Linked DNA regions of Homo sapiens: region 1 is linked to region 2. A link means that fine-mapping ties the variant in region 2 to the expression of a gene that starts in the linked region. Tissue or cell type: whole blood. Region 2 holds a variant in brackets; the other region holds the start of a gene. All regions are shown on one strand. Distances are from middle to middle.

Region 1 (15,804 bases), 24 kb before region 2:
TGGATATTTCTTATAAATGAAATCATACTATTTGTGACTTTTTGTATCTGCCTCCTTTCACATGCATTTTTTCAAGATTTATCCAGGCATATATCAGTAATTCATTTGCCTTTATTAATTTTATGAATGTTTATATCCATAGACCACATTTTATCCATGAGTAGCATTTTATTTATAGATACTTTTTTTTTTGGAAATGGGGTCTTGCTCTGTCACCCAGGCTGGAGTGCAGTGGCACGATCATGGCTCACTGTAGCCTTGAACTCCTGGGCACAAGTGATCCTCCCACCTCAGTCTCCTGATTAGCTGGGACTACAGGCATGTGCTACCATGCCTGGCCAATTTTTTAATTTTTTGTAGAGATGGGGTCTCGCTATGTTTCCCAGGATGGTCTTGAATTTCTGGCCTCAAGCAATCCCCCCATGTCAGCCTCCTAAAGTGCTGGGATTACAGGTGTGAGCCATGGTACTCAGCCAGGCTTCCTTTTGTACCTTGCTACTACATGCTCCTTTGTACTTGCTTGGTAAATGTTTTTATGTCTTTTAAAAAGCAAAGTGTTATTATTTTCTTAAGAAGATGTGAAATTGGAGAACAAGTAATTTCGATTTCCTTTTTAAGTAAACTCCCACAGAACCTAATAAAGAATAACATTTAGCATAAAGAGATATAAATGAGTAGCTGCCTTCCCTGGATTCATTTTCTCCTCCTGTAAACAGGATATATGTCAACACTAATAATTCCCATCAGGATAACTTATGTGTAATTAAACAATACCACACACATCTAATTATTACACAGTGTAGATGGGGTAGGCAATGAAAAACTCCTCAACCACAGAAATTGTGGTTTTAGCAAGCCTGCTCTATCGCCCAGTCCAAGGGATTACTTCCATCACTGACCTTTGCAACGTTAATTGCCTGCATGTTCCTGGGAGTCTTCACTTCCTTATGCACAGACATTTTCCCAAAATCAAATCCAGGATTTGTCACTTAATTGGTTCTTAGTGGGGATAACAGAGATAAAACCAAAAATCCAAGATATTTTCCTAAATCCCTATTAAAAATTCTATAAGGATAAACAGGCTAATCCTTCAAAGTCTAAGACTTGGTTCCTGAGTGGATTTTAAAGTATGACACTGTTTAATGTCCCTACCTTCCATAAGATATACTTAAATTTTAAAAATTATACTTCTAACATTACCAAGTTTTTTTTTTTTTGAGACAAGGTCTCACTCTGTCATCCAGGCTGGATTGCAGTGATGCAATCATAGTTCGCTGCAGCCTCAAACTCCTGGGTTCAAGCTCAAGCCTCCCATTTCAGCCTCCCAAGTAGCTGGGACTACAGGTACCCACCACCCAGCCCAGCTAAAAAAAAAAAAATTTTTTTTTTGTAGAGATGAGGTCTTGCTATGTTGCTCAAGCTGGTCTCGAACTCTTGCCCTCAAGTGATCCTCCTGCCTTGGCCTCCCAAAGCTCTGGGATTGCTGGGACTATAAGCATGAGCCACTGTGCTCAGCTCTAATATTATGATGTCTTAAAGAGATAGAAACCCCTTTAAATTATTGAAGTATTCCAAATGGGGACAACCCCCTACTATATCAAGTACTGGAAGTCTGATGGTCTTGACTCCAAATTTGCTTCTCTGTAGCTTGTGGGAACTGTACTGGCCAAGGTTCTGAAAGAGAAAGTACTACTTATTTACTAGTGTCCGCTTCCAAAAAAAGTTCAAGCCTCTAAGTTTAAAAAATGGTTCACATTAGGATTTGTTAAAATTTCCTCACACTCAAATTTAGGGTAGTAAGGGACTTTAGAAATCTACTTTAACCTAATTATTTACAAATGAAAAGGAGGTGGATACGAGAGAAAAGACTTGCCCAAATCTATAGAGTCAGTTGGGAAAACTATTATACTTAAAATAAAAAGGTACTCAGGCTTCCAGCTGGAAGCTCATTTCATCATACCACCTACTTAAAATGCCTAAGTTTGGACACTATTGAAATTCCTCTGTGTTGCAGTGAGCCGAGATCCCACCACTGCACTCCTGCCTGGGCAACAGAGTAAGGCCCTGTGTCAAAAAAAAAAAAGAAAAAAGAAAGAAAGAAAAAAAGAAATTCCTCTGCCTTCTAAGAGAAAAAAACAAAAGCAAAATGGATAACTTTCTGATCTAGAACGTGAGAGTGAATCCAGCCTGGGAAACACAGCCAAACCTCACCTCTACCAAAAATATAAAAATGAGCCAGGCACGGTAGTGCACGCCTGTGGTCCCAGCTACTTGGGAGGATGAGGTGGGAGGATGGCTGGGGCCTGGGAAGTCAAGGCTGCAGTGAGCAGTGATCACACCACTGCACTTCAGCCTGGGTGACAGAGTGACCCTCTCTCAAAAAAATAAATAAATAAAGTGAGAGTGGGCTGGGTGCAGTGGTTCACGCCTGTAATCTCAGTGCTTTGGGAGGCTGAGATGGGAAGATTGCTTGAGCCAAGGAGTTTGAGACCAGCCTGGGCAACACAGGGAGACCCTGTCTCTATGAAGTTTTAAAAATTATCCATGTATGGTGGTGCAAGCCTGTGGGCCCAGCTACTCTGCAAGCTGAGGTGGGAGGACTGCTTGGTCCCAGGAGTTCAAGGCTGCAGTGAGCCACGGCCATGATGGCACCACTGCACTCCAGCCTGGGCGACAGAACAAGACCCTGTCTCAAGAAAAAAAAAAAAATTGAGAATGAAAGGTAGAGGTATCACACTTCATTTCATGAGATAAAGAATTTTTTTTTTTTTTTTTTTTGAGACAGAGTCTCGTTCTGTTGCCCAGGCTGGAGTACAGTGGCGTGATCTCAGCTCACTGCAACCTTGCCTCCCAGTAGCTGGGACCACACGCCCGTGCCACCACACCCGGCTAATTTTTGTATTTTTAGTAGAGACGGGGTTTCACTGTGTTAGCCAGGACGGTCTCAATCTCCTGACCTCGTGATCCACCCGCCTCGGCCTCCCAGAGTGCTGGGATTACAGGCGTGAGCCACCGTGCCCAGCGAGATAAATGATTTTTTCTTAAGTATCATTCCATAGTTCAGGTTTTAAAAGTTGCCAGTAAAGTATAAATGTTATGATGGTCTTGCCTGGAGGCTAAGCAAAATGAACCAGATCTTCCCTGCAATCTGAAGGTTTTTCACCATAATGAAATATACGAACTATGGCGGCTATTGATTTTGTGTGCCCAAAGCTATCCCCATCCCTCTTTTCCATAAGCAAAGTCTATAGTCCCTTGGACAGAAGAATGGGCATGTGTCCTAAGATTGGCTAATCAAGCACCTCACATCACTGGCATAGTCTAAGTAGGGCCAACCAGAATCCTCTCTGGGAACTGTGTGACACAGATGCTGCGAAAAATAAACACCCTCCCTGTTTCCCACCATGTGGAGAGCCCAAGACCAACATTCAAAGAGAAACAGACAAGCAGAAATGAGAGAAAGCAAGAGAATCTGGCAGTGTCAGCTCCTTGGTTCTCATTCCTGAGCTAGTTTCTTTGTAAATTAATCCTGTATCTGTATCAACTACAGAGGCCAGAAAATTCCTTTTTTGCTTAAAATAGTTTGAATTGGGTTTTTGTCCCTTGCAATTCCAAAATCCTAATCTATACTTACCCCAAGAGAGAGGGCTGGATATACATTGCCCTTAATGCAGGGAAATCAATACATTTTTGTTAAATTTTTAAAATTTGGACGCCTCTAGACAGGCTCTCTATTATGTCTTCTATCTATCACTTCCAATATCCTACACCCACCAACTTCACTATTTCTATTACATAAACCCTGAAAGCATCTGATTTTGCCAGTGCTTCCCCAGGATGTCCCTAGAATTTTTAAAAATCCTAATATAAGCTTGCTTCAGTTGATTTCCCAAAAAAGTCGAATATAAAATACATTCAAGGTAACCTAAGTTAAATGAGATTCTACCCAATCTAGAACATCAAAAAGCCTAGGTATCAACACTTTAGTATGTGAGGAGGCAAAATTTCAAAATTTAACATGAATCCAAAGGGGGTATGCTACTTCAATATAATTTAGTTGCATGTTTTTCTTCATACCAATGGAAATCAATAACAACAATAAATCTCAGGACCTACCTCCAATAAGGCTCCAGTTTGAAAGAATTTCAAAGGCTTTTCAATTGAATAATAAAGGCTATGGTAGCTACCCTTAGCCAGGTATGCTCGGACCAGACCAACCGCTATAACCAGCCACCTAGTAAAAGAGAAAACAGCAATCAGGAAAAAATAAAAATAAAAAAAGTAGCATTTAGGTTAACACACAGCTGTGGCAATAAAAGATATTGCTAAAGGTGACCTCAAGCATGAGTAACCTGGATTTATGGACGATAGCTCTCAAATGCCAAGCTGTAATGCACTGAAATGTTGCAACACCGACAGCACCTTACCAAGAGGGCTCAGTGAAAGCATAGTGGCACCTCACCCATCTGGAGCTCATTTTTTTGGCAACTTTGCTATTGAGATCAAGGCCAAAAGGAAAGGAATAAGCTAAAATGGTCCTTGTGCCACTAAATCAGGTGCCAAGAAAATCTAAGACGAGAAAAAAACAGTTAAAGGAAAATTTTAAACAGCCTGTGCAGTTAAAGGGTTTTTAATAATTACAGGGTGGAAAGAAGATGCTTTAAACTATTGTTATAATTGTCTCACTGGAACAATTACCCATACCTTAAAATCTATCCTTTTAAAATTACGAATAAAGGGCTCTTGCTAAAAAAAAAAAGTTTTTTAGCCAAATTTCCTAAAATCAATGCAGAAATGAAAGCCAGATCAATACAAACCACGAAACAGGAAAGCACTTAAGCATACAGCTGTGAATGTTATATTTTTGTTCCACTGTCCTTCTCAAAAATAAACACAATGTTTTGTTAAGTTCCATAATAAAACAAATGGACCTTTTTATTAAGGTATGTCTCCTGGAAGGATTTAGATAAATGTATAGTATCAACTAGGCAATGGGGTGTGTGTGGTCTATGCTATTTCCAAAAACTATCACATAAGGACATCAAGTAAGAGTTTGTAAAAGAAGAAATTATTTAATGGTGTAACTGGTACAACCATTAACAGCCTTAAAAAAAAAGCTTACTTTGCTCTCACAATCCCAATTTATCTTCCTGGTTTAAGATACCACTCCTTACCCTCCACCCCATTCTCTATGTTCATTGCTCAGGAATAGACTTCTTTCTTCTTACCAATGTACCTCAAAATCCCTCTCCAGTCCAATGCCCTCACCGGCTCTTGCTAAGACAACAAGAATTTTATATATAAATATTAATACACACAGTGAGATTCCTGGATGTTTTTTTAAAAATCAATCTATGTGACCACTGATGTGATATAAAGCTTGTATCTGTACTAGTTCTTCATTGACCTGTGAGTCAAGAGAAATGATTTCTAGATCTGGAACTTCTACTAACAAGTTCTATGATCTCATGCAAGTCACAACTTCTCTGAGCCTAGGTTCCAACACCTACCATTTCTAATACTAGCAATACATATATGATCCTCCCACGATATATTTTCTTCTTCGTGAAAAAAAAGCAAGGTGCTGAACTGTAAAAATATTAATATATTGGCATTTGTCTTATTTTAAAAAGGGATAGGGGGATGTATAAACATATTTGCTTGCATCAGCATCTTAAGGATACACAAAATTAACTGCCTCGAGGGAGGGGAGCTGGGTAGAAGGGAAAGGTGGGAGGAAAGATTTTCACTGTATTCCCTCATGTTTTTCATTTTTAACCCTAACAATGTATCACCTACTTTAAATAAAAATGGATGTTCACTATACAATTCTTTCAACTCTTCTGTATGTTTGAAATTTTTCATAATAAAATGTTAGGACTTCTTAAAAAATTACAAATGAAGATAACTTAAAAATATATAACTGTCTGATGCTGTGATCCTCCTCACCAAAATGACAAGATAAAGAATTGCAGAGCTGAAGGAACCTTCATCACCCAGACCAACCCTTTAGTTTTACAAATGAAAAAACGGAGGCTAGAGAAATAAGATGATTTATCCAAAGTCACACAGCTAGTTAGTGGCAGAGCTTGAACTAAAAACCCGCCGGGATAAGGGATGCACTGAAATGAAAGAGACAGAAGATGGGTAAAACCGTTTCGAGGGTCCATTCTCCCCCTTTCCAGTAACTCTGCCTTCTACTCCCCAGTTTCTTCCCCACCCCAACCCATCCTAAAAGTCTAAACTCATCTAAAGCCTAGCTCTGCTCATGTCGCTGGCCAAAAACTTTGAACGCTTTCCCAATACCTTTCAGATTAAAGCGCAGCCCAGATTTTGAAAACAGCCGCCCAAATGAATGGTCACTCTGCAGCCACAGCTCCTCCACTCCCCATGCTGGCGCCGTTCAACATCCGAATCTGGCCGCCCAGGACGGGCTCCGCGCCGCAGGTAGTCCGGCCGCTGCCCCCGGCCCCGCACCTGTGGCCAGCCCCACCTTTCCTCCCGCGGCCCTCGCGAGCCAGCGCCCGGCAGCCGTCCCCGCGCCCCAGTGCCTGGGAACTTGGCTCGACCCCCAGCGCAGGAGGGAGCTCGCGGGCAGCCACCGGGGCCGATTCAGCGCTCGGCCGCCCTCAGCGCCCAGGTACCGGGTCCCGGGCACCCCCCGCCGGGAATGCACTGCCTGCGGCGGGCCGCGCCGATCCTATCCGCCCCGCCGCTGGCCGCAGGGCTCCCTCCCCGGCCGCGCTGGCTCCCCGCCTCCCCGAGCCCCAGCCTCACCCGGCTGTCATCACCACATTGTAGATGACCAGGTACGCCGTGGCCAGGGGCCCCGGGCCCTTCTTCTTCCGCGTGCCGCTGGCGTCCCCGGCCCCGGCCCTGCCACCGCCGCCCCCATTCCCCTTCGCTGCTGCAGTCGCCGCCACTGCCGCCATGTCAAGTGCCCGAAGCCCGCTCTCCTAGCGCGAGCGGCTCGGGCCGGACTACGCGAGGAGAGGGGGCGGAGGAAGGGACGAGGGGCAGGCGGGGCCAGGGCCGCGGGGCGGAGCCGGGACAGGGTCCACGGCAGCCGCCATCTTGGCTGAGGGCAAAGACGCTCCTGGCGCTCCCGTCTTTCGGCTTGCCTCAGTTGCCACTGCCATCTTGGATCAGGGTAATTCCCGCCTCTTGGGCGCTCCCGGTTACAACCTCGGCGCCATCTTGGATTAGTTCAATGTAGCCACCCTCTCCAGGCCCGCTGCTTCTGCCAGCTGGATGTTGCGTCGTCCCTCGCTATTCGCCCTCCTATAATCACTGCTTCCATGTTGAATCAAAACAATTATGCTTTCGTTCTCCCTTCTTCAATTGCCCTATCTTCACACCTGAACACTATTGCTCCGGTATCCTGCCATTTTGGATCAGGGCGGTTGACGGTGGATTCACTTCCCATCAGCCCTTGAGGCTGCAGGGACCAGCCCTTTGGTAGGTGCGCTTTGCTTCCTAACCCGTTGCCGGGTTGGAGATTCCACCTCCGAAGTTTTCTTTCTGACTTTTGATTTTACATTCCTAGTACAGTGGAGAAGCCCAGGCGGCCTAGAATCCAGTGTCGTCCGTGAGTGCTTGGCTGGTGTTCAAGTGCATCTTCCAGCCTGAGACCGCGTGGACTCGCTCATCGTGAGGGCGAGAGGAGGATAAGCCCATTGGGCTGTCGGCTGAGAGTGAGGTGCGGGGTAAGGGAGTAGATTTATAGCTATAGTGACTAAAAATAAAAGGATGTTGGCTTAGGTGGAAAACCTCTCTGCTTTGGGAAGCTGGAGCAGCTTGTGGGCATTGCTTCAACCAGCTGATCCCACTTTCCATTCATTGCTTTGTTTCAGGAGGTTCTTTATTTGTAAACGTCCCCTGCAATTTTTTACACACCCAAGCAGCTCCTTAAATGTATTACTGTATATGTGGTAGTATAAAATATTTATGGGTTCATTCCAGCAAGTGTTTATGGAGCGTCCACAAAGTTGCCCTGGAGTTCATGGCACTAAGTGAAAGAGACAAAGTCGTCAGTCTCCCAGGGATTATATAGAGCAGCGGCCCCCAACCTTTTGGTCAACAGGGACCGGTTTCGTGGTGGGGGGGTGGATGATGGTTTCAGGATGATTCAAAGGCATTACATTTATCATTAGATTCTCATAAGGAGCACACAACTTAGATCCCTCCAATGCGCAGTTCACAATAGGTTCCCCGCTCCTATGAGAATCTGATGCCACCGCTGATCTGAGGGAGGCGGAGCTCAGGAGGTAATGCTCCCTTGCTTGCTGCTCACCTCCTGCTGTGCCTCCTGGTTCCTAACAGGCCAGGGATTGGTTCTATCCGCAGCCTGGGGCTTAAGGACCCCTGAGGGAACCAGACGAAAATGCTCGTATTAGTTGGTGAAAAGTGGTATCAGGAAGTTATTACAATAATCCAGCCATGGTGATAGTGGTGTGGGCCAGAGTGGTGGAAATCGAGGTGATGAAAACAACAATGAATTCTGTGCGTATTTTAGAAGTAGAATTATAAGATTTGTGGATATGTTAGTTTTGGAGTGTGAGGTCAAAGGCGTTTTGAGCAACTTGTAAGAAACCATTTTTAAGGCGGAAGTCGGGAATTTTGTTTTTTATATGTTGAATTTGAAATCCTTATTAAACATCCAAGTGGAGAGGCTGGATAGACAATTAAATTTAGACCCTGAGGTTCGGGAAGGAAGTCCAATGGGCTAGAGATATAAATTTGAGAGTTGTCAACCTAAAATAATAAAAAAGGTAAGAATCTAGTTTAAAGGAAGTTTATTCAAGCATAAAGGTTGAAGATGGCTACCTGGGAGCATAGATTCAAGTTACCCTAAATATACACTCTGATTAGCAGCGGTTATGAGTGGGTTTTTAAAGGAAAAAGAGGCAGCTTCTAAGTTGTTTACTAAGAATTTACATTAAAATTACATTAGCTATTGATTGGCTATAAACTATTCTTTGTATCACAGATTCCAGGAACATGAAGATAATGGGTGAGGCTGCTAGTCAGGAACAAAATGTCTAAACAGTTGCCCCCAGGCAAACTCTTGTCTCTGGGCCTGATAAATTTTTGCATACTTCACATAGCTCAGACAGCTCAGAGCTGTTTGAGGTATTATCTTTTCTCAGAGTTCTGAGGGTGGTGGTGGTATTTAAATCCATGACACTGTAATCACCCAATACGTTCTTCCTTCCCACTGCACAGACAAAATCAATTCATAGAGACCATGGCATTGCAATAAAGAATTTAATTGACATGAGATAGGTCTTGGAGATGGAGTTATTACTCCAAATCTCCCCCAAAATTCAGAGGGTAGGGTTTTTCAAGAATAGTTTGGCTAAGATCTGAGAGCTATAGTCAAAACAAAACAAAACAAAACACCCACCCCCCCCCCAACACACACACAGTTTGGCAGGCAGGAGGCTGGAGGAATGGGTGCTGCTGATTGGTTGGGAATGCAATTATAGGGGTGTGGAAAATGGTCCCCCTGCACTGAGCCTGCTTCTGGGTGGAGGCCACAGGACTGGTTGAGCCAAGAGTCAAAGGTCTCAGTGGGGTCGTCAGCCATCCGAAATGCAGAAGCCTGAAAGTTTATCTCAAAAGGCCAATCTTAGGTTCTACAGTAGTGAACTGGGGAAGCTGCAAATCTAGTGACCTCTGGAATAGTGGCTGGTAATCATTTAACTTAACAAAGCCTATGTCTTAGCAGAATTCAAGCTCCTCTTATCCTTCTAACCTGGTGGCTTTTCATTAGTTTTACAAAAGTGGTTTAGTTTTGGGGAGGGGCTATTATCGCTTAAACTGTAAACTAAGTTTCTCCCAAAGTTAGCTTGGTGCAAGCCCAGGAATGACCAAGGGCAGTTTTGGAGGTTAAAGATGAGAAAGGAAAACCCCAGATTCACTGAGCCAAAGGGAAAAGTCAAGCTGGGAACTGGGTCACACAAACCTGCCTCCCATTTGGTTCCTAAATAAGATAGCTACAAAGATAAAAGCTATATACTTCCCTCACATTTTACCCACAAGGAAATTCCTTTTAGGCCCAAAGATCTTTACTCTAAAACAGTTCTGTTGAATTTCAACCTGGCAATGTAAGTTGATATCTTCACAGGTATGGGACATAGGACAGAATTCAAAGTCTTCCCTCTCCTCACCTGAGACAAATGCATATCTGATTGCTTCCTCTGCCCTATTGTCTACGTTATCTTATGTAAAAATACAGATTAACTGAGCCAGACTAAGGCATGAATATTTCCTCCACTCCCCACTCACATGAAAATTGTGTATTCAAAAGGATGCAACTGTTTTATCTTTTTATCTACTGACACAATTTAAAAATATTTCTTGGCTGGGCGTGGTGGCTCACGCCTGTAATCCCAGCACTTTGGGAGGCCAGGCAGGCAGATCAGGAGGTCAGGAGTTTGAGACCAGCCTGGCCAGTATGGTGAAACCCCATCTTTACTAAAAATACAAAAATTAGCTGGGTGTGGTGGTGCGCGCCTGTAGTCCCAGCTACTTGGGAGACTGAGGCAAGAGAATCGCTTGGAGTTGGAGGTTGCAGTGAGCCGAGATTGCGCCGCTGCACTCCAGCCTGGTGACAGAGCGAGACTCTGTCTCAAAAAAAAAAAAAAATTTCTCTTCCCCCAGTATCCACCCTTTCCCCTTTAAGTACTGAAGCCCTCAAAATCATCTTTGGAGATAGGCATATACCTGCCTCCCTGGCATGCATCCTTTACTATGGCAAATAAACCTCCTAAAATGATTGAGACTTGCCTTGATCGTGTTCTTTGATTTACAGAGTCAAGGTGGGGGCTGGTTAGATCAGATCTCTCTCAGTCATAATTTTCTCACTGTTACAATTTTTGCAAAAGAAGTTTCAAGACCTCAAGAGATGAAGTGAGAGGCATAAGTTGACAATTGTCAGGGTCCCATCCTTTCCCGCCATGGCAGATTGTTCAGAGATTCTGTTGCCTTGTTTTCCTGAAATTTTTTTTTTTTGGAGACGAAGTCTTGCTCTTGTCCCCCAGACTGGAGTGCAATGGCACACTCTTGGCTCACTGCAACCTCCGCCTCCCAGGTTCAAGCAATTCTCCTGCCTCAGCCTTCCAAGTAGCTGGGATTACAGGTGCCTGCCCCCACGCCCAGCTAATTTTTGTATGTTTAGTAGAGACGGGATTTTGCCATGTTGGCCAGGCTGGTTTCGAACTCGTGACCTCAGGTGATCCACCTGCCTCGGCCTCCCAAAATGCTGGGATTATAGGCATGAACCACCACACCCGACCTTCCTGAATTTTTCAAAGAGCAAGTTGGTGAGCCCAAATTGCACACTGTGATCAGAGGGCAAAAAAATTTCTTTGCAAAAGAAATAAAGAAGTGAACCATTTTACAAAACCAAATAATCATTCATCTAAAAGCTTCTTTCATTCATTTGACTGATTTTTTTTTCAATATAATCTACTTAATGGGAAAGTAGGAGGAGGCAGGAATGCATAAAGTTCTGTTCAGTTGGAAATCAGTTTAAAACTCAATGTATCTTCTTGCAGTCACTTAGGCCCAACTCCAGTCTGTTGTTTATAGCAGCAATCTCCAACCTTTTTGGCACCAGGGACTGGTTTCATGGAAGACAATTTTTCCATGGACTGGGGAGGGAATGGTTTCAGGATGAAACTGTTTCACTTCAGATCAGCAGGCATTAGATGGAGCCTGCAACCTAGATCCCTCGCCTGCATGGTTCATGATAGGGCTCGTGTTCCTATGAGAATCTAATGCCGCTGTTGGTCTGGCAGGAGGTGGAGATCAGGTGGTAATGCTCACTTGCCTGCTGCTCACCTCCTGCTGTGTGGCTGGGTTCCTAACAGGCCATGGACCTGTACCAGTCTGTGGCCCAGAGGTTGGGGACCCCTGCTCTACAGTACAGCCAAAGTGATCTTTTCCACATACAACCTTGTTCGTGTCTACTACCTTCCTCTGCCCCACCCCTGAAGATATTTAAATGGCTTTTGATGACACTTAGGATAAAGCATAAAATATTTAATATGGTATACAAAAATCTGCATAGACTAGACCCTACCTGCCTCCTCAGTCTCACCATGCCCCTCCTAGTCATACTGGCCTCATCTTAGGTCTTCCATCGAGCAGTACTCCTTTTTTGCCTCAGGGAATTTGCACATGCTATTCCAATCATACCTTCCCAACAGTACCCCAAAGTCTTAACTCATTTCAGCATTAACTCAAAAGTCCAAGTTCAAAGTCTGATCTGAGACAAGGCAAGTCTCTTTCACCTACAAGCCTGTAAAATCAAAAACAAGTTAGTTACTTCCAAGATACAATGGGGGTACAGGCATTGGGTAAATGTTCTCATTCCACATGGGAGAAATTGGCCAAAACAAAGGGGCCACAGGCCCCATGCAAGTCTGAAACCTGGTTGGGCAGTCATTAAATATTAAACCTCTTAAATACTCTCCTTTGACTCCATGTCTCACATCCAGTGCATGCTGATTGAAGAGGTGAGCTCCTAAGGCTTTGGGCAGCTCTTGCCATGTGGCTCTGCAGGGTACAGTCCCAAAGGCTGCTTTCATGGGCTGGAGTTGAGTGCCTGAAGCTTTTCCAGGTCCAGGGTGCAAGCTGTTGGTGGATCTACCATTCTGGGGTCTGGAGGACAGTGGCCCTATTCTCAGATCCACTAGGTATTGCCCCAGTGGGGACTCTGTGTGGATGCTCCAACCCCACATTTCCCTTTTGCACTGCACTAGTAGGGGTTCTCCATGAGGGCTCCGCCCATGCAGCAGACTTCTGACTGGACATCCAGTCATTTCCATACATCCTCTGAAATCTAGGCATAGGTTTCTAAACCTCAACTCTTGGCTTCTGCACACTTGCAGGCCCAACACCACATAAAAGCTGCCAGGGCTTGGGGCTTGTACCCTCTGAAGCAATGGCCCAAGCTGTACCTTGGCCCCTTTTAGCCATGAGGTGGAGTGGCTGGGACACAGGGCACCATGTCTTGAGGCTGCACACAGCAGTAGAGCCCTGGGCCTGCCTAGCCCAGGAAACTATTTTTCCCTCCTAGGCCTCTAGGTCTGTGATGGGAGGGGCTGTCCTGAAGATCTCTGAAATTCCCTGGAGACATTTTTCCCCATTGTCTCAGCTATTAACATTCAGCTCCTTGTTACTTGTGCAAATTCCTGCAGCCTGCTTGAATATCTCCCTGGAAAATGGGTCTTTGTTTTCTACTGCATGGTCAGGCTGCAAATTTTCCAAACTTTTATGCTCTGCTTCCCTTTTAAACATAAGTTCCAATTTCAGATCATCTCCTTGTGAACGCATGTGACCGTTTGCTTTCAGAAAAAGCCATGTGACATCTTGAATGCTTTGGTGCTTCGAAGTTTATTCTACCAGATACCCTAAATCATCTGTCTCAAGTTTAAAGTTCCACAGATCTCTAAGGCAGGGGCAAAATGCTGTCAGTCTCTTTGCTAAAGCATAGCAAGAGTGACCTTTGCTCCAGTTCCCAATAAGTTCTTCGTCTCCATCTAAGACCATCTCAGCCTGGACTTCATTGTCCATATCACTATCAGCATTTTGGTCAAAATCATTCAACAATTCTCTAGGAAGTTCCCAACTTTCCCACATCTTCCCCATGTCTTCTTCTGAGCCCTCCAAACTGTTCTGACCTCTGCTGTTACCCAGTTCCACACTTGCTTCAACATATTGAGGTATCTTTATAGCAGTGCCCCACTCCCAGTACCAATCTTCTGTATTAGTCCATTTTCACACTTCGATAAAGAACTACCTGAGACTGGGTAATTTATAAAGAAAAGATGTTTAATTGACTCACAGTTCTGCATAGCTTGGGAGGCCTCAGGAAATTTACAATCATGGTTGATACAATTACGCTGTGTTTCCACCCACATCTCATCTTGAATTTTAGTTCCCATAATCCCCATGTGTTGTAGGAGGGACCCAGTGGGAGGTAATTGAATCGTGGATGCGGTTACCTCTATGCTGTTCTTGGGATAGTGAGTGAGACTCACAAGCTCTGATGGTTTTATAAGCATCTGGCACTTCCCCTGCTGCCATGTGAAGAAGGATATGTTGGCTTCCCTTTCCACCATGATTGTAAGTTTCCTGAGGCCTCCCCAGCCATGCAGAACTGTGTCAACTAAACCTCTTTCCTTTATAAATTACCTAGTCTCAGATATTTCTTCATAGCAGTGTGAGAAGGGACTAATACAATGGTGGACAGCAAAGGAGAAGCAAGCACCTTCTCCACAAGGCAGCAGGAGAGAGAGAGAGAGAGCAAAGAAGGAACTGCCAAACACTTATAAACATCAGACCTCGTGAGAACTCACTATCACTAGAACAGCATGAGGGAAACCATCCCCATGATCCAATCACCTCCCACCAGTCCCTCCCTCAACACGTGATGATTACAATTTGAGATGAGATTTGGTTGGAGACACACAGCTAAACCGTATCACTCCTTTTTTGCATTTATAATTTTTAAAATATCACTTATTCTTCCCCCTCTACTTACTGGAATTTGTACATCTTGCTTCTCTTCTTTTACTGGTTACCATAGAAATTACAGCATGGATCATTAACTCATTAAAGTCTAATATTAATCAGTACTTTATCATCTTCCTAAACAATACATAAACCTTTCAAATCTGTCTGGTCATTTTTAATAATCCCTTGTTCCTTGCCTATATGAATTTTTATGAATATATAATACCATGTATCTGTCATGGCACATTGTACATAATAGTTTCACTGCCCTAAAAATCTGTGCTTTACCTATTCATCCCAAACCAGCCTCCTCCCACACCCATAGTAACCATTGATTTTTTTACTGTCTCTACAGTCTTGCTTTTTCCAGAATGTCATATAGTTGGAATTATACAGGATGTTGCCTTTCTGTTGTTTTTTTTTTTTTTTCACTTAGCAACATGCACTTAAGGTTTGTCTGTGTCTTTTCATGGCTTGACAGCTCACTTCTTTTAATCACTGAATAATATCCCATTGTCTGGATGTACCTTCTTTTTTTTTTAACCTATTCACCAATCGAAGGACATCTTGGTTGCTTCCAAATTTTGGCACTTATGAATAAAGTTCATATGAACATTCATGTGCAGGTTTTTATGTGGACATAAATTATGTTTTTTATTTCATCTTTTATTTTCTTGAATATTTTATACAGGCTTATTTTATTTTCCCTATATGATAATTCCAATATTTGAAGTTTCTGGGGGACTAAATCATTTTTTTTTTGTTGTTGTTTTTGTTCACTGACTCATGGTGGCTTAATCTCCCTGTAATTTTTTATTGTGAGTTTATTTTATTGAATTTAAATCAATGGAAATTCCAAGGGCCTACATTTGGGATGCTTTCCTTCAGAAGGACTTTTATATACCTCTGCTAAAAGCCAGATGGCATCCGGACCACTTTAGTGTGCGCTTCAAGGATCCTGGAGCTTCAGCTTCCTCATGTTGCCATGGTTCCAGGTTTAGCTTCTGATTCACAGAACTGGTGTTGGCATTTGCAACATAGTGAAAACTCCCATATCTAATTTTTTAAAAAACAGAAATTAATGCAGAAGAATATTACTTCAAAGGTATAGAATTTTAAAACTATCAATATCACCAACCATAAATGAGAAGATTCGTACATTTGACTATATTAAAATAAAGAACTTTTGTTTGCCAAAAGATAGCATGAAATAAGCAAAAAAGCAAGGTACAGAGTACAAGATATTTGCCACATGTATAATTGATAAAGAATAGCCTC
Region 2 (15,804 bases):
TCTGAGTCATTGTTTGGTCTCTTGGCTCCCTCCCAGCTTGGGGGAAGGTTTTTCTATATGATTCCAGGTTTTTCTCATTACAGGCATGATAATGCATGCATGTAGTCCTGAGCTACTTGGGAGGCTGAGGCAGGAGGATTGCTTGAGTCCAGGAGTTTGAGGCTGCCATGAGCTATGACAGCACCACTGTATTCCAGCCTGGACGGTACCTTGCTCAAAAAAAAATAAAAATAAAAAGGCATATTAGAGAAACAGATTAGCCTGTGATTCCAATTTAACATATAAATTGTGTAACTGACTTAGATTTGGGATTCAAGATTTAACTCTTACTAAATTTATAACAGTATTGGACCATTTAAGTGACATTAAGTCTTATTGTATTTATAAATTTAATTATCATGAGACATTTCATTTGAGAAGTTATTTGTAGGAGCTTTTCTTGGGAAGTTTTGTTATAAGCCAATTGAAGAATTTAAAATGAAAATGAAATTATTATACACTAGTAATAATTTTCATTTGTTTGTTTGTTTGTTTGTTTTGAGACAGGGTCTCACTCTGTCACCCAGGCTGGAATGCAGTGAGGCCATATCAGCTCACTACAACCTCCGCCTCCTGGGTTCAAGAGATTCTCCTGCCTCAGCTTCCTGAGTAGCTGGGATTACAGGCATGCACCACCATACCCGGCTAATTATTTTATTGAGACGGAGTTTCACCATTTGGCCAGGCTGGTCTTGAACTCCTGACCTCAAGTGATCTGCCCACCTCAGCCTCTGAAAGTGCTGGGATTACAGATGTGCACCACTGCACCCAGCCATGTTTGTTTGTTTTTTGAGACAGAGTCTCACTCTGTTGCCCAGGCTGGAGTGCAGTGGCACAAACATACCTCACTGCACTCCTGGCCTTAAGCAATCCTCCCACCTCAGCCTCCCAGGTAGCTAGGATTACAGGTGTTTATTACATTTATGAACATGATTTAAAAATGATTAAGGGAATTAATTAATTAGATGCTAAAAATTCCCTTAAAAGTTAATATTGCATTTTGGTAGATTTTATAAACCTACCAAATCAGATCTGGAAATTGAATTTAAAAGTTTAAGGAAGAACTAGGTTTTAAAAATTGCAATAGGTAAAATATGAATTAAAAAGAACAAACTGGTCTCTGAATAATTTTTCTGTGTGCAAAAAATTGCCATTAAATGCATAAAGTACCCACATTGACAATTTGATGAGAATTGGATGTTTTTATTGAGAAATTCCCATATGACAGTATATGTGGGTCATTTCTCTAGATTGTCCAGTTTCCAAGAACAGTCCTTCAATCCCTTGCTTGTGCAAGAATAACCTGCAGCAGGGCTGGCTTCATGGGCCAGCATCCCATGCAGTCTCACAGGGCCCTGCTCTTAGAAGGACCTCACACTTGTTCTAATGCTCTGCTCAAAAAAAAAAAAAAAAAAAAAAAAAAAAGGCATATTAGAGAAATAGATTAGCCTGTGATTCCAATTTAACATATAAATTGTGTAACTGACTTAGATTTGGGATTCAAGATTTAACTCTTACTAAATTTATCACAGTATTGGACCATTTAAGAGAAATTTTGCCATCTTGAAAATTTTATTTTAAACAAGGAGCCCTACATTTTTATTTTGCACTGGGCCCTGCAAATTCTGTAGCCAGTCTTGCCCTGTAGTCAGAGTTGTGGCAGCCAAGCAGTAGGAGAGGGCTGGAGTTTCAAAGGTCAGTGTGCAGACTCTCCCCAGTCCCTGAGTTTTCTCAGTTGCCTCCCTCTCACCCACCAAGTTGTGCCTATTGTCCACCAGTCCGTGGTCTCTCCAGTCCAACTTTAAAAGATCCACTTTCCTGCCAGGGTCGAGGGGAGGAACTGTCAGCTGGCCATATGGGCTAGAGGAGGAGGAGATGAGGGGAATATCTAGTTCCCCTGCTTTTGCTAATTCTGTGGTAGGAATTACCTTGCCTTTTTCATTTGTGTTTTTGAGACAGGGTCTCATTCTGTTGCCCAGGCTGGAGTGCAGTGGCATGATCATAGCTCACTAAAGCCTTGAACTCCTGGGCTCAAGCGATCCTCCCACCTCAGCCTCCCGAGTAGCTAGGATTACAGATATGCACCACCACACCCAGCCTGAATCACCTTGTTTTTGAGGCTTTCTCCCCTGCAGACACTTGCAGAATGGAAAAAGTTGAAACTTAATTACCAATTAGCCTATTCCAAAATTTTGCTGACATCTCAACTCTAATGTATCTCCTTTCTCATTCTTTGCCCTTATGGATTTATGCCTTTTGTTCCTTTATTTAGGTTTTGGGAGAAACAGGAGAAAATGCAGGTGTTCAATCTGCCGGGCATGACAAGTGGTCTCAATTTAGCTTCCATAGAAACAAGGACTTTTCTCCTTAGTACTCGATTTTTGTTGCTTTATGTAATACTTAATCAAATGATATAATTACAATGACAAGTACAACTGGCATAAATAAGTTTAAGAACAAACCCATTTTGGCCGGGCGTGGTGGCTCACGCCTGTAATCCCAGCACTTTGGGGGGCCGAGACTGGTGGGTCACGAGGTCAGCAGATCGAGACCATCCTGGCTAACACGGTGAAACCCCGTCTCTACTAAAAATACAAAAAAATTAGCCGGGCGTGGTGGCAGGCGCCTGTAGTGGAGGCTAAGGCAGGAGAATGGTGTGAACCTGGGAGGTGGAGCTTGCAGTGAGCCGAGATTGCGCCACTGCACTCCAGCCTGGGCGACAGAGTGAGACTCTGTCTCAAAAAAAAAAAAAGAACAAACACATTTTGACTCTTGGTAAATATGCACCTCAGTTAGTGGGGACAGAAGTATGCGGGCATTAGTCATTTTACAGAAGGAATGAGAGTTGTGGTTAAGTTGGGCAAGTTGGATTAAATGGAGATTAGTCAACTGAGTTTCTATTTTAAATAAATGAATATAAGGCATTCATTAAGAGGGTGCATTATTGAAAGTCTAAATGATTTGGCTTCTTGGACAACCAATTTAACTTTAAAGAAGCTAATCTGTCTTTTTTTTTTTTTCTTTAGAAAAGAATGGGGTTTCATTCTTTTTGCCCAGGCTGGAGTGTAGTGGCGTGATCACAGCTCACTGCAGCCTCAATCTCCCAGGCCCAAGCAATCCTCCCTCTTCAGCCTCCCAAGAAGCTGGGACTACAGACACATACCATGACACCCGGCTAATTAAAACACAATTTATTTTTGTTTTTATTTTTTTTTTTGTAGAGACGGGGTCTCCCTATGTTTCCCAGGCTGGTCTTCAAGGCTCAAGGAATACTCTCGCTTTGTCCTCCCAAAGTGCTGAGATTACAGTTGGGAACCACCGTGCCCAGCCTAATCGGTGTTTTAAAAAGCCTTAAGCAAACAACTGCCTTTCTGGGATCAGAGTCTTTTCTGCACTTTGACATGGGTAGTATCGAAGAGTCCAGAGTAACCTCCTGACTCTTGGCCCCTGCTCTGTCCTAACTCCCAACAATCCCTGCCTCTGCCTTTATCTCCTAGTGGACTTTTGAGCTGCTTTGACCTCAAAGACCTTGGTTTGCATGTATGAGTCATACCTTGTGAGGCTCCCTTTCATAGGTACCTGGCTGTCTAGCCTCTAGCCTTTGGGGAATTCAGGGCAGACTGACTTGTCTTTCTGTTGGCTTCCTCCAATGCAGGATGTTAGCTTCAGTTTCTCTGCTCTACGTCAGTTATCCATTCTTTGTTTTCCATCTTCCATAATTCTGACATTTTCCATCTATCATCACCTGTATTTGTCTTTATATTTGAAGAGTTTATATCTCTATTTTATTTTATTATTATTATACTTTAAGTTTTAGGGTACATGTGCACAATGTGCAGGTTTGTTACCTTCACAGATGGGAACTGAACAATGAGAACACATGGACACAGGAAGGGGAACATCACACACCGGGGACATCTTTTTTAAAAACATTGTTATCCCTTTACTATCAGTTTAATGGAAGTTCTGAGGGGTAGAGAATCACTGCTTCTCTTGAGTAATTCATGTTTGACTTTCTCTCTACTGTGGTAGGTTCCTATTTCCTAAGCTGATATTTCCTTCATCTCCTGATTCTTCTGAAAACAGGAGTCTCAGTTTTTAGCTTTCTAGACAATTTGAAAAAGACATCTACTCAGCCTTCAGAGCCCTATTTGTTCTGTGGTTAATATGCAGCCAGAAACAAGTCAATGTAAGTCAGCTTTTGCAAATATCAATTAGAACTTAGGGGATGTGTCAGGATAAAACTTAAAGTGTAATTAGTTTAAGTCAAGCTAACTCTGGGAAATTTCCTCTTGATAGAAAAATAATATTCATAAGGTCAGATGAGCTTTTCTCCTTTGACTGTTAAGAAGGGAATATTTAGGGATTGGAAGTTAAAATTTTCCTTAGAACGAGATTTAGATTTGTAACATTTCCTAAACTCACAGCAATTGTTTTTTTGTACAATTGCATGGCACTTTCAGTTTCAAAGATCCTTTTTTTTGGGAGGTGGGTAGAACTTAAAATAATACCTTCCATCTTTAGTACAGTTGTTAGTGGGGTATTGGTTCCAGGACACCCCCACAGATAACAAAATCTGCAGTTGCTCAAGTCCCTTATATAAAATGGCATATGTAGTATTTGCATGTAACCTATGCACATTTTCCTGTATGCTTTAAATCATCTCTAGATTACTTATAATACCTAATACAATGCCTACACATCACTTCTTTCACATAGATTCAATGTAGTACTAGGTGAACAGCAAATTCAAGTTTTGCTTTTTGGAATTTTGTGGAACTCCCCACCCCCAAATATATATTATATATTATATAATATATATAATATATATTTTATATTATATATAATATATATTTTATAATATATATTTTATATTATATATAATATATATTTTATAATATATAATTTTATATTATATATAATATATAATATATATTTTATATTATATATACTATATATTTTATATTATATATACTATACATTTTATATTATATATACTATATATTTTATATTATATATACTATACATTTTATATTATATATACTATACATTTTATATTATATATACTATATATATTTTATATTATATACTATATATTTTATATTATATACTATATATATTTTATATTTTATATACTATATATATTTTACATTTTATATACTATATTTTATATTATATATATATTTTATATATAATATATAAATATAATAATATATTTTATATATAATATATAATATAATATATATGATATATAGTATATATATTTTATATATTATATATAATATATATTTTATATATTATATATAATTTTACATATATAGTTTATTTATATATATATATATATATATATATATATATATATATATATATATATATATTTTTTTTTTTTTTTGGGGACAGCATCTCGCTCAGCCACCCAGGCTGGAGTGCAGTGGTGTGATCTCGGCTCACTGCAACCACTGTCTCCCGGTTTCAAGCAATTCTCCTGTCTCAGCCTCCTTAGTAGCTGGGATTACAGGCACCTGCCATCATGCTCAGCTAATTTTTATATTTTAGTAGAGACAGGGTTTCACCATATTGGCCAGACTGGTCTTGAACTCCTGACCTCAGGTGATCTGCCCACCTCGGCCTCCCAAAGTGCTAGCATTACAAGCACGAGCCACCACACCTAGCCTCCCACCAAATATTTTTCATCTCCAGTTGATTGAATCCATAGATTTGGAATGCATGGATACAGAGGGCTGACTGAATATAACTTTTTCACATATTTGGGGTTTTTTTTTTCCTGCAGAAATGTAATCTGTTCTTTCAGAGTAGAGATTGTTTCTGATACATCTTAGCATCTCTGAGTGCCAGAATGAGGGCGTACCATAAGGTCAGGCACATAGAGCTTGTTTAATCTTTCTATCAAGCCATGAGTGAGGAACTACTATAACTCTAATTTTATAACTGTGGAAACTGAGGCACAAGCTACACAGCTGTAGTAAGAGGTAGAGGTAAGAGGTAGTAACTTATTTTACAGAGGGAATGAAAATGGTGGGTAAGTTGGACAAGTTGGTTCCTAGGATAGCACCAAGAGGAACTGACTCCACTGATTAACCAGGTTAGCTGCCTCCTACCCAAGCACACTGCAGGATTTGCCTTCAGTGACAACATGCAAGGTGCTTTCTGGAGAGGCATATCTGGGACTTCATGGAGCTTGCAGAATCGGTTGTATGGCTGCTGGCTAATAGGTGTTTGACAAGTTTGGCCTGAGACTATCTTTGAAACATACCACCTGAAGCGTGGTTGTGGAGAAGCCCCATAGCTCAATCTTATCTTAACTATTGGAGGCTACTGATACCTGCCTTAAAGATGTTATTAATAATAAATATGAATGACCAAATTGACTTAGGTTAATTTGTAACCTCCTTCTCCCTTAGTTATCTCCAGCCGAAAGAAATCTAGTCTAAGAGAGTCACAAAATATCTTGTGAAAATTTACCACAGGCCTCAAACAGAGACTCGGGGGACTGAAGTCTCTGACATGAAGCGCTTCCTGCAGGGTATAAGCATTTGGAACACGGGTAAGGCCTATGGGCTAAAATCTCCAGCCAGCAGCGGTTAGAAATTCAATGTTGTCCCCAAGCACTTTAGATCTCCTGAGTGTTTTGAATTCCAGTGGGAAGGGAGTTCTGATAAAAGGCAGCTGAGTTTGGAAGGATTGTAGCCTCAGGATGGCTCCTCTGCCTTTTGACCCATGGTTGAGGAAATTCTGCCTCAGCAGCCCTGTCTCCCTTTCTGCATCCATCTCATAGTCCCCACTGGTGATCCCCCATCTCAAGTAGCAAATTCCAAAGACGTTGGAGAATGTTGGCCTTGTTGGTTGTCTCATATCAGAAATAATCTGAGAGTTGCTTGTGAATTGCAGGACTATTTAGATTTTGAGGTCAGAAGCATAGAACTGGTACTTTTTTTTTTTTTTGAGATGGAGTCTCACTCTGTCGCCCAGGCTGGAGTGCAGTGGCGCAATATCCGCTCACTGCAAGCTCTGTCTCCCGGGTTCATGCCATTCTCCTGCCTCAGCCTCCCGAGTAGCTGGGACTACAGGCGCCCGCCATCACGCCCGGCTAATTTTTTGTATTTTTAGTAGAGACGGGGTTTCACCGTGTTAGCCAGGATGGTCTCGATCTCCTGACCTCGTGATCCGCCTGCCTTGGCCTCCCAAAGTGCTGGGATTACAGGCGTGAGCCACCGCGCCTGGCCAGAACTGGTACTTTTAAAATGTCTTTTTATTTTTTAATTAATTTTTTTTAAAGAAATAGAGATGGGGTCTTGCTATGTTGTGCAGGCTGGTCTTGAACTTCTGGCCTCAAGCGATTCTCCTGCCTTGGCCTCCCAAAGTGCTGGGACTACAGGTGTGTACCACTGTACCCAGCCTTTAAAATGTCTTAAAAAGTGAAAAACTATATTTGAATATAAATAAAGAATTAAGAACAACAACACTTGAGTATCGAGACTATATTATCCAATACAATTGATGAAACTATAGACCATACTCTCTAGACTTTCACACAAGCTTTTCAGTTTTAATTTCACATAATTTGAAAAGTGATGTACATGTGACTGTCGAGCATTTGAAATGTAACTCATACAACTGAGGAACTGAATTTTTTATTTTATTTTTTAAAGTAACTTAAATTTAAATAGCCACTTGTGAGTAGTGGCTACCATCCTGGTCACCACACATCCAGAACATGGTGATAAGCCTGTATCAGGATAGTCTAGGTTATGTTGCAGCCACTGAGAACCCCAAAATCTTGGTGATTTATAAGAACAAATGTTTATTTCTTGCTTGTGTTATGTCCCCATTTTGGGTTGGCTAGAGACCCAGATGGCTGCAGCAGCCACCATCTCATGTGTTGCCCGTCATTATGGAGAGGCTTGTACCAGCACATAAATGCTCTGGTCCCGAGGGTACATACATCACTTCTGGTCACAGCTCACTGACTAGGACTAGTCACATGGCCCCATCTAACCAGGAAGCCGAGAGTGAAGCCCTAACTCTGTGCAGAGATCCTTAGCAACAACTGCCACCAACATTAGCCCCCCCTTTCAAATTACAGGAAGGAGTCCCAAGGGATAAAGAGAGTAGTGCTACTTGTGTTTTCTTGAAAAATGGAGAATTGGGTTTCTCACAACTCAATTATTTATTACCTCCTATGTACTTATTAGCACAGATTTATCAAAAACAGGTGAGGTGTGGAGCAAAAAGCAAATTTCAAACATTTTAACAAAAATAAAAAATCTTTACATAAATTTAGAGCTGACAACAGTCAGCATGTCTTATTAGTTGCATGTAGGAAATATCTTTTAATAAGATATGCAATGCAAGGAACAATCAATGGATTATTTTTTATATGTTTGGGATGAAAATGAATGGAAGAAAGTATATCTGTTATTTTTCTCAGTGCAGCATATAAATTGTACATTTTTCACTAGCAAGGAATAAAAAGTCATTTTCTTTAAAAATAATAAATTGTTAGGGACATTTGTGGATTGTGAGTGTCTTAAAAATGAAAACACTAAATATTTATTAACTGGACAATGGATTGTTTCTTTCCAGACTACATCAAAGAATCAGAGAATTATCTAGCCCTACATTTAACAGCATGTCTTAAACTCTTTCTAGACCATCCACAATATTGTTTGAACATCTGAAGACATGGGGAACTTGCCATCTGATATCTGATAACAGACTTCCTGTAAAGCAGGACTGG[T/TA]AGTTTCCTGATAACAAATTCTTCAATATGAAGGTATGGATAAAGCATTTGGCTGCCAATAATGAACTGCACCAAAGTCACCAATTCAAACCATGCCCTGGTAAATAGTATCATCAGTGATGATGATGATGATGATGATGATAATGTCACATGTTAAAAATGTCATATAGATTTTAGCATCTTGAGGACCTGATACTCTGTAACAGTGGTCCCTAACCTTTTTGGCACCAGGGACCACTTTCATGGAAGACAGTTTTTCCATGGACCAGGAGAGGGGGTGGTTTTGGGATTATTCAAGCACATTACATGTATTGTGCATTTTATTTCTATTATTATTACATTGTAATAATATATTTTATTATAATATAAAATAAGTATACAACTCATCATAATGTAGAATCAGTGGAAGCCCTGAGCTTGTTTTCCTGCAACTAGACTGTCCCATCTAGGGGTGATGGGAGACAGTGACAGATCATCAGGTGTTAGATTCTCATAAGGAGCGTGAAACCTAGATCCCTCACATGAGCAGTTCACAATAGAGTTCGTTCCTGAGAGAACCTGATGCTGCCGCTGATCTGACAGGAGGCAGAGCTCAGGCGGTAATGCGAGCAATGGGGATCGGCTGTAAATATAGATGATGCTTTGCTCACTTGCCCACTGCTAACCTCCTTATGTGTGACCTGGTTCCTAACAGGCTACTTACCGGGGGTTGGGGACACCTGCTCTATAAGATATCCTTCTAGAATGATTGATATAGTACTAAGCTGATGCTCAAGAGAAATTTTGAACTAAATGTGTAAATTCGGCTACCTATATAAACAAGAACTTCCTAAATCATTCTGTTCCATAGCAAAACACAACCACATAAGCCAGTTCTTCACATCTAGGCACCACAGTGTTTGTTTTTCATTTCCAGGATATAGCTGTGTCCTTTACAACTGGTAGCATGGAAAGAAAGAGAAGTCTGCAAAGATTGAACAAACAGCATGCACTGTGGTATCCTTTATTTAAAAATTGTGAGCTGACTACAGTTGTAGTGTTCTCATTTACCATTCTGATGGCATAATAAACCAAGAGAACATTAACACAATTCCAAGAAGGCATTAACCTGTAACACACATATACGCCACACATGCACACACACAACATACACGCACACAAAGGTTATATTCTGAACACAAAAGTGATAGAAAAAAGCTTTGAATGCGCTAAATCAAATAAAAACCCTTTATTATAATAAACTGTGGCAATACTGTGGCTATCATGAAAAATATTGTAACTATTTTAAAAGCAAAAGGAAAAATACTGGCAGTTTGAAACTAGCAGCAAAAAGCAGATAAAAATAGAATGGAAGATAACATAAGACTAATATCAAAATTCTAATGTTGATACTGTGTAGGATTGCACTGAAGTAATTTTAAATTGGTTCTTAAGGAACTCTTAAAAAGTCCCTTAAAAATATTAAATTGTTGCACCTTACAAACAGTGGAAAAGAAAAAAAAAGTATTTGGAATGTTACACACACACACAGAGGAAATGTATTAGGTCTATCATCAATTATGGTCTTTGTTTATGACCTTCAAAAAGCTTTATAAAGAAAAAATTTAAGTGCCAATGTAGTGAAAGAAAGTTAAAAATTCCTAAAGACGCAAGTCTGAGTGCATTTACCAGGTCTAAGAATATATTTAAAGGTTGGGGGCAAGGCATGATTGATGCACATTTAAGAAGAAAAATATGGAACCCATAAGGTAGGTCAAGTTCTTTGGAGAGTGTTGAGAATGAAGATGTATTAAACTCTGGCTATCTTGGAGGAGATTCCAAAGTACATGGAGTTCTCCAGCTCTTTATCAGTTGAAATCTGTTTCATCGTGGCCAATAGATAATTAAGACTAACTTTTCAGCAAACTGATTTCTCCTATATTCAAACACAAAAATCTTTACCACACGTTCAGAGCTGATATTCTATAACAGCACAAATAAGAATCCTGGTTTACAAAGGAAACCACATTAGCAAGGATTTTTTTTTTCCCATGGGTTCTTAACCAAATGTCTGAAGCTGCTAGACATCTGCAAAGAGGGGATAAGTTTAGATTTCCTACTGATTTTGGAAGAAAAATATTTTCCTAAGGAAGCCAGAGTCATCCATGAGCAGGGACCTGTCTTCAGAATCGAAGAAGCATAATGTCCTTAATGCTTACACTCATGACAAGTTGAGAGTCAGCAAAACTGGCAGGTGGAAGGGGAAAGAGAAATGGAGAGTTTGAACATCTGCAGTGTACTTTGGAATAAAGTGGCTCAACTGCTTTCAGAAATGAATTGCTGGAGTACTGGGAGAAAACCCAGTTCTCTAGAGTCAGGGGGTGGGGAGAGAGAGGCCTCCCATCCCCAGGAACCCTCTGGGCTGAGCTGTGGCCCAGAACTCTTGTTTTGGCCTTATTTTTCATGAGCGCATTCAAGTGGAGAATTTATGACTTTGCCCAGATAAATATTTGGTTTGGTTACTTTCTCTCTAAAATCAATTGGTCAGTCAAGTTACTGGTGATTTCCCTAAATGAAATCTAGCTGCACTAGTATCTTAAGGTGCCAACTAACATAGATTAATGCCCATCAATAACGCTGCTAGGTATCAACTGCTGTTTCTGAAGAATCAACCCACAAATGACCTAACCGATAATCTATCACACTAGGTGCTTTTACTATCTTGAGTTTTTTTTTTTTTTTTGAGTTTTAGAGAAATAGTCCTTTTAATATGACTTAGAAACTGCTTTTCTCTGGCTTTGTTTCACTCTTCTTCCTCTTCCCCTTCCCCTTCACCTTCCTCCATCGTTTCCACAATGAGCTCTGCTGTGCAGGTGGCTTCTCCAAGACTGTTGACAGCCTTGCAGGTGTACTTGGCATCGTCATCCCCGCAAACATCACTAATAATTAAAGAGCAGTTCCCGTCCTCATCGTAGTCTATCTGGAAGTGGCGGGACTCCCTGATTGACTGGTCATCTTTGAACCAGACAACCTCGGGGTCTGGGTATCCTGCATCACAGGGAGAGAACACAAGTTGCAGGAACTGTTATTCAAAATTTCTTATCAACTCATGCAAGCAACTTGTAAGCTACCACTATTGATTAAGGTGGTTAAGGAGAAAATTTTGATGTTGGCCTTTATCGACTGTTTTGATATCTACATTAGAATATGGACATGTCTTGTAAATACCAATATCTGAAACCCCAAATAGAATATTTTAAAGTTGTTCCATTTCCCACACATGTTGGACTAGCACCACATCCCACCTATTAAAAAACTTATTTAATAGTTTTTTTATTTTTTTAAAGTGATGAGTCTCACTCTGTTGCCTAGGCTGGAGTGTAGTGGCATGATCGTAGCTTACTGTTGCTCAAATTCCTGGGCTCAAACGATCCTCCCTTCTCAGCCTCCTGAGTAGTGAGACTATAGGCATGAGCGACCGTGCTCAGTTAAACATCACACCTTTCACTTTTTGGGGGGTAGGGGGGCAGGGTCTCATTCTATCACCTAGGCTGGAGTGCAGTGGCATGAACATGGCTCACTGCAGCCTCAACTTCCTGGGCTCAAGTGATCCTCCTCCCTCAGCCTCCCAAGTAGCTGGAGCTATAGGTACATGCCACCATGCCTGGCTAATTTTTTAAAAAGTTTTTTTTTTGTAAAGACAGGGTCTCCCTATGTTGCCCAGGCTGGTCTCAAACTCCTGGGCTCAAGTGATCCTCTGACCTTGACCTCCCAAAGTGCTGGGATTACAGGTGTGAGCCACCACACCCACCCATCTTTAAACAGACATAGAGTACTACCTGAGGCTAGGCATGGTGGCTCATACCTGTAATCCCAGCACTTTGGGAGGCCAAGGTGGGCAGGAGTTCAAGACCAGCTTGGCCAACATGGCAAAAAAATAAAAATTAAAAATAGAGTACTACCTGAAATACTGCTCCAATTCCAACTCTACACCTAGATCTGAATACCTTCTTAGATTGAAAATACAATTTTCTTTTTCCTTTTTTTTTTGAGACAGAGTCTCACTCTGTCGCCCAGGCTGGAGTGCAGTAGCGTGATCTTGGCTCACTGTAACCTCCGCCTCCTTGGTTCAAGTGATTCTTGTGCCTCAGCCTTCTGAGTAGCTGGGATTACAGGTGCACGCCACGACACCCGGCTAATTTTTGTATTTTTAGTAGAGACAGGGTTTCAGCATGTTGACCAGGCTGGTCTGTATCTCCTGACCTCAGGTAATCTGCCTGCCTTGGCCTCCCAAAGTGCTGGGATTACAGGTGTGAGCTACCTGTGCTCGGCCGAAAATACAATTTTCTATCTTTTTTTTTTTTTGAGACAGAGTCTCACTATGTTGCCTAGGCAGGAGTGCAGCAGCATGATCTCGGGTCACTGCAACTTCCAATGTCCAGGCTCAAGTGATCCTTCCACCTCAGCCTACTGCATAGCTCAGACTACAGGTACACACCACCACACCCAGCTAATTTTCGTATTTTTTGTAGAGATAGGGTTTCACCATGTTGCCCAGGCTGGTCTTGATCTCCTGGACTCAAGTGATCTGCCTGCCTTGGCCTTCCAAAGTGTTGGGATTACAGGCGTGAGCCACTATGCCCAGCCTAAATTTTCAATTTTGTATAATAGTTTAAGTGAAATAATTTAAATGAAAAATAAGAGTCAAAACAAAATGGGAACAAGGGATCTTTTTGGAGTGATGAAAATGTTCTAAAATTGGATTGTGGTATAAATTCATTAAAAATAATTGAATTGTGCATTTAAAATAGGTGAATTTTATAGTATATAAATTATAACTGAATAAAGCTAATAACAGCTATATAAAACATAATTTAAAAGAGCTGATAATATTGCTAAGAAGAAGAAAGCAATATTTGTCTTAGTCTGATCCAAAGCAGGTAATTTGCCTATGGACAATTGGAAATGGACCTCACCAATGAGCCTTTATGCATTAGTCATATCTCTGCAAAGTTCAGCATTAAAAAATAAAATACACATGCATATAAAATATATATTATATGTATTTAATGTGTATGTGTACATATATATGTACAGAAGCATTACCAACATTATGCATTTTGTTTGCAGGTACATAGTATATACATGTACCCCGCTTTTAAAGTCATATATATACATACATTTAAAAATATACAATATATTCCACCTGACTTTCTCTTAAATGTTGGTGAAGTATTTTTATAGGAAAAAAATTGTAGCCCTGATACGGTTTGGATATTTGTGCCCCTTGAATCTCATGTTGAAATGTGATCCCCAGTGTTGGAGGTGGGGCCTGGTGGGAGGTGTTTGGGTCATGGAGGCCGATCCCTCATGAATGTCTTGGTGCCCTTCCCGAGGTAATGGGTGAGTTATTGCTCTGTCATTTCATGCGGATCTGGTTGTTAAAACGTGGCACGTCCTTCTCTCTCGCTCTCTCACTTGCCATGTGACATGCCTGCTTCTGCTATGATTAAAAGCATCCTGAGGCCTCACTGGATGCAGATACTGGCACCAAGCCAAATAAGCTTCTTTTCTTTATAAATTTTCCAGCCTCAGGTATTCCTTTATAGCAATGCAAACAGGCTAATATGAGCCCTAACCAGAATAAAAATTATACATAAGAAATCAAGAATTCTAATGTTCTTTTCAATGTTGTTTTTTCAAAATAATTTTAGAAATTGTTTTTTCGAAGTAATTAGGAACACCCAGACCATGAGGAAAATTGGGTCAGGAAGAGCTGGTCATAAAGTACCCTCCACTCCCATGCCCTGCACCCTCAGTGCAAAAGTTTCAATTTTGTTTTTATCAAAACAGCATCCATATGCTTTAATTTCTCATCAGAGCCCCAGGCAAAAGTTACATAAATATCAATGAAACAATTCCAAAGAGAAAATTAAGTACGAAACAATCCCAAAGAGAAAATTAAGTACAAAATGATAATCATTATGTTATTTTAAAACATTCAAAAAGGAAAAGAAACTTCAGAAGACCCAAATGCAATGGTAATGGTGAGAATTGCAAGCAGTGGCTCCAGAGCCTTCAGCAGAATCCCCAGTCCGAGAATTTTCACATTATCAAAGGCAGCACATCCACTTTCTTTTAATTGAGTGAGGAAAGGAAAATGACTATGGTAGGCGAAGCATTGATAAGGCACTTTGATAATATAAAGATGCAGAAGAAAAACTATTTTTTCCATTCCTAACTTTGGGTTATTTTACTCAAAAGGCATTGTCTAGTCACATTGCTGGAGAATCAAAGAAAGTGGGAGGCACAGTTTGTTTTGACTGCTGTACTGTGCTATGCGGCCTCGGGAAAGTTGCCTAATAAACTTCTGTGCTTTATTTGGTCAGACCAAAATGGGTGATAACCCACCACCCTGGTTGGCAGGTGAAAGTCACAGACTTGAAGCAAAGAGCCTGTCTTATCTTGTCCCTTCTCTTTCTAGACGGTTGCAATCTATATGAAAATGGAAACGCTTTGTGTCATCAACTTTGCTCATTTCTCAGGTGCTATGCCATGACCCCTTAAGGTCCCTTGAGCTCTGACCACTGACAGGTCTGTGGCTGCATTATTCCCAGCAGGCAGATAAGCAGCCTGGGGAAGATGGTGCCGGCTGAGTGCTTTGTCCCGGGTGCCTGGCTCCCAACTGGCCTCAGTCTGAAGTCACAATGCATGCACTCTCTCTGTACCTGCCAGTCCCACAACTTTTCCCTTTGCTCTGTGACATCTTTACAAGATCTAAAAGGTTCCCCCTTCTCACATATGTCCCCTCACAGAATCCCCAGAGCCACTCCGTGACTTAGCTATCATCTTACAGCAGAGGGACCGTAACTCAGGGGAGTTGGACCACCATCCAAGGTCACACAGCCTGTGGACGAGTAGCAGAGCCTGCCGATTCCACATCCTATGCCTTTGTGCCAGCCTTCCTTTGAGGGCCTCATATGGGCAAGTCACATGCTTTTCAGCAGTTTGCAAAGCTCATTTCACTA

The links.
Region 1: MYLK-AS1 starts here. The variant in region 2 is fine-mapped to the expression of MYLK-AS1 in whole blood (TOPMed, PIP 0.91).

The regions. Positions count from the first base shown.
Region 1 is chr3:123,578,096-123,593,899 of GRCh38, forward strand. It overlaps MYLK-AS1 (MYLK antisense RNA 1), which reads left to right and starts at 7,418. Exons shown (of 4, transcript NR_121654.1): 1 at 7,418-7,458; 2 at 7,552-7,706. It overlaps HACD2 (3-hydroxyacyl-CoA dehydratase 2), which reads right to left and starts at 6,958. Exons shown (of 7, transcript NM_198402.5): 1 at 6,778-6,958; 2 at 4,117-4,234. The coding sequence starts at 6,932. RefSeq lists silencers at 6,283-6,462, 6,473-7,082, 12,733-12,933 and an enhancer at 7,143-7,442.
Region 2 is chr3:123,602,526-123,618,329 of GRCh38, forward strand. It overlaps MYLK (myosin light chain kinase), which reads right to left. Exons shown (of 34, transcript NM_053025.4): 34 at 7,524-11,824. The coding sequence ends at 11,580. The region is part of intron 2 of MYLK-AS1 (MYLK antisense RNA 1); the gene reads left to right. Among named protein-coding and RNA genes, the nearest start is that of MYLK-AS1, 25 kb to the left of the region's middle. RefSeq lists an enhancer at 7,889-7,938. The variant T/TA (reference allele first, on the strand shown) is at 8,798.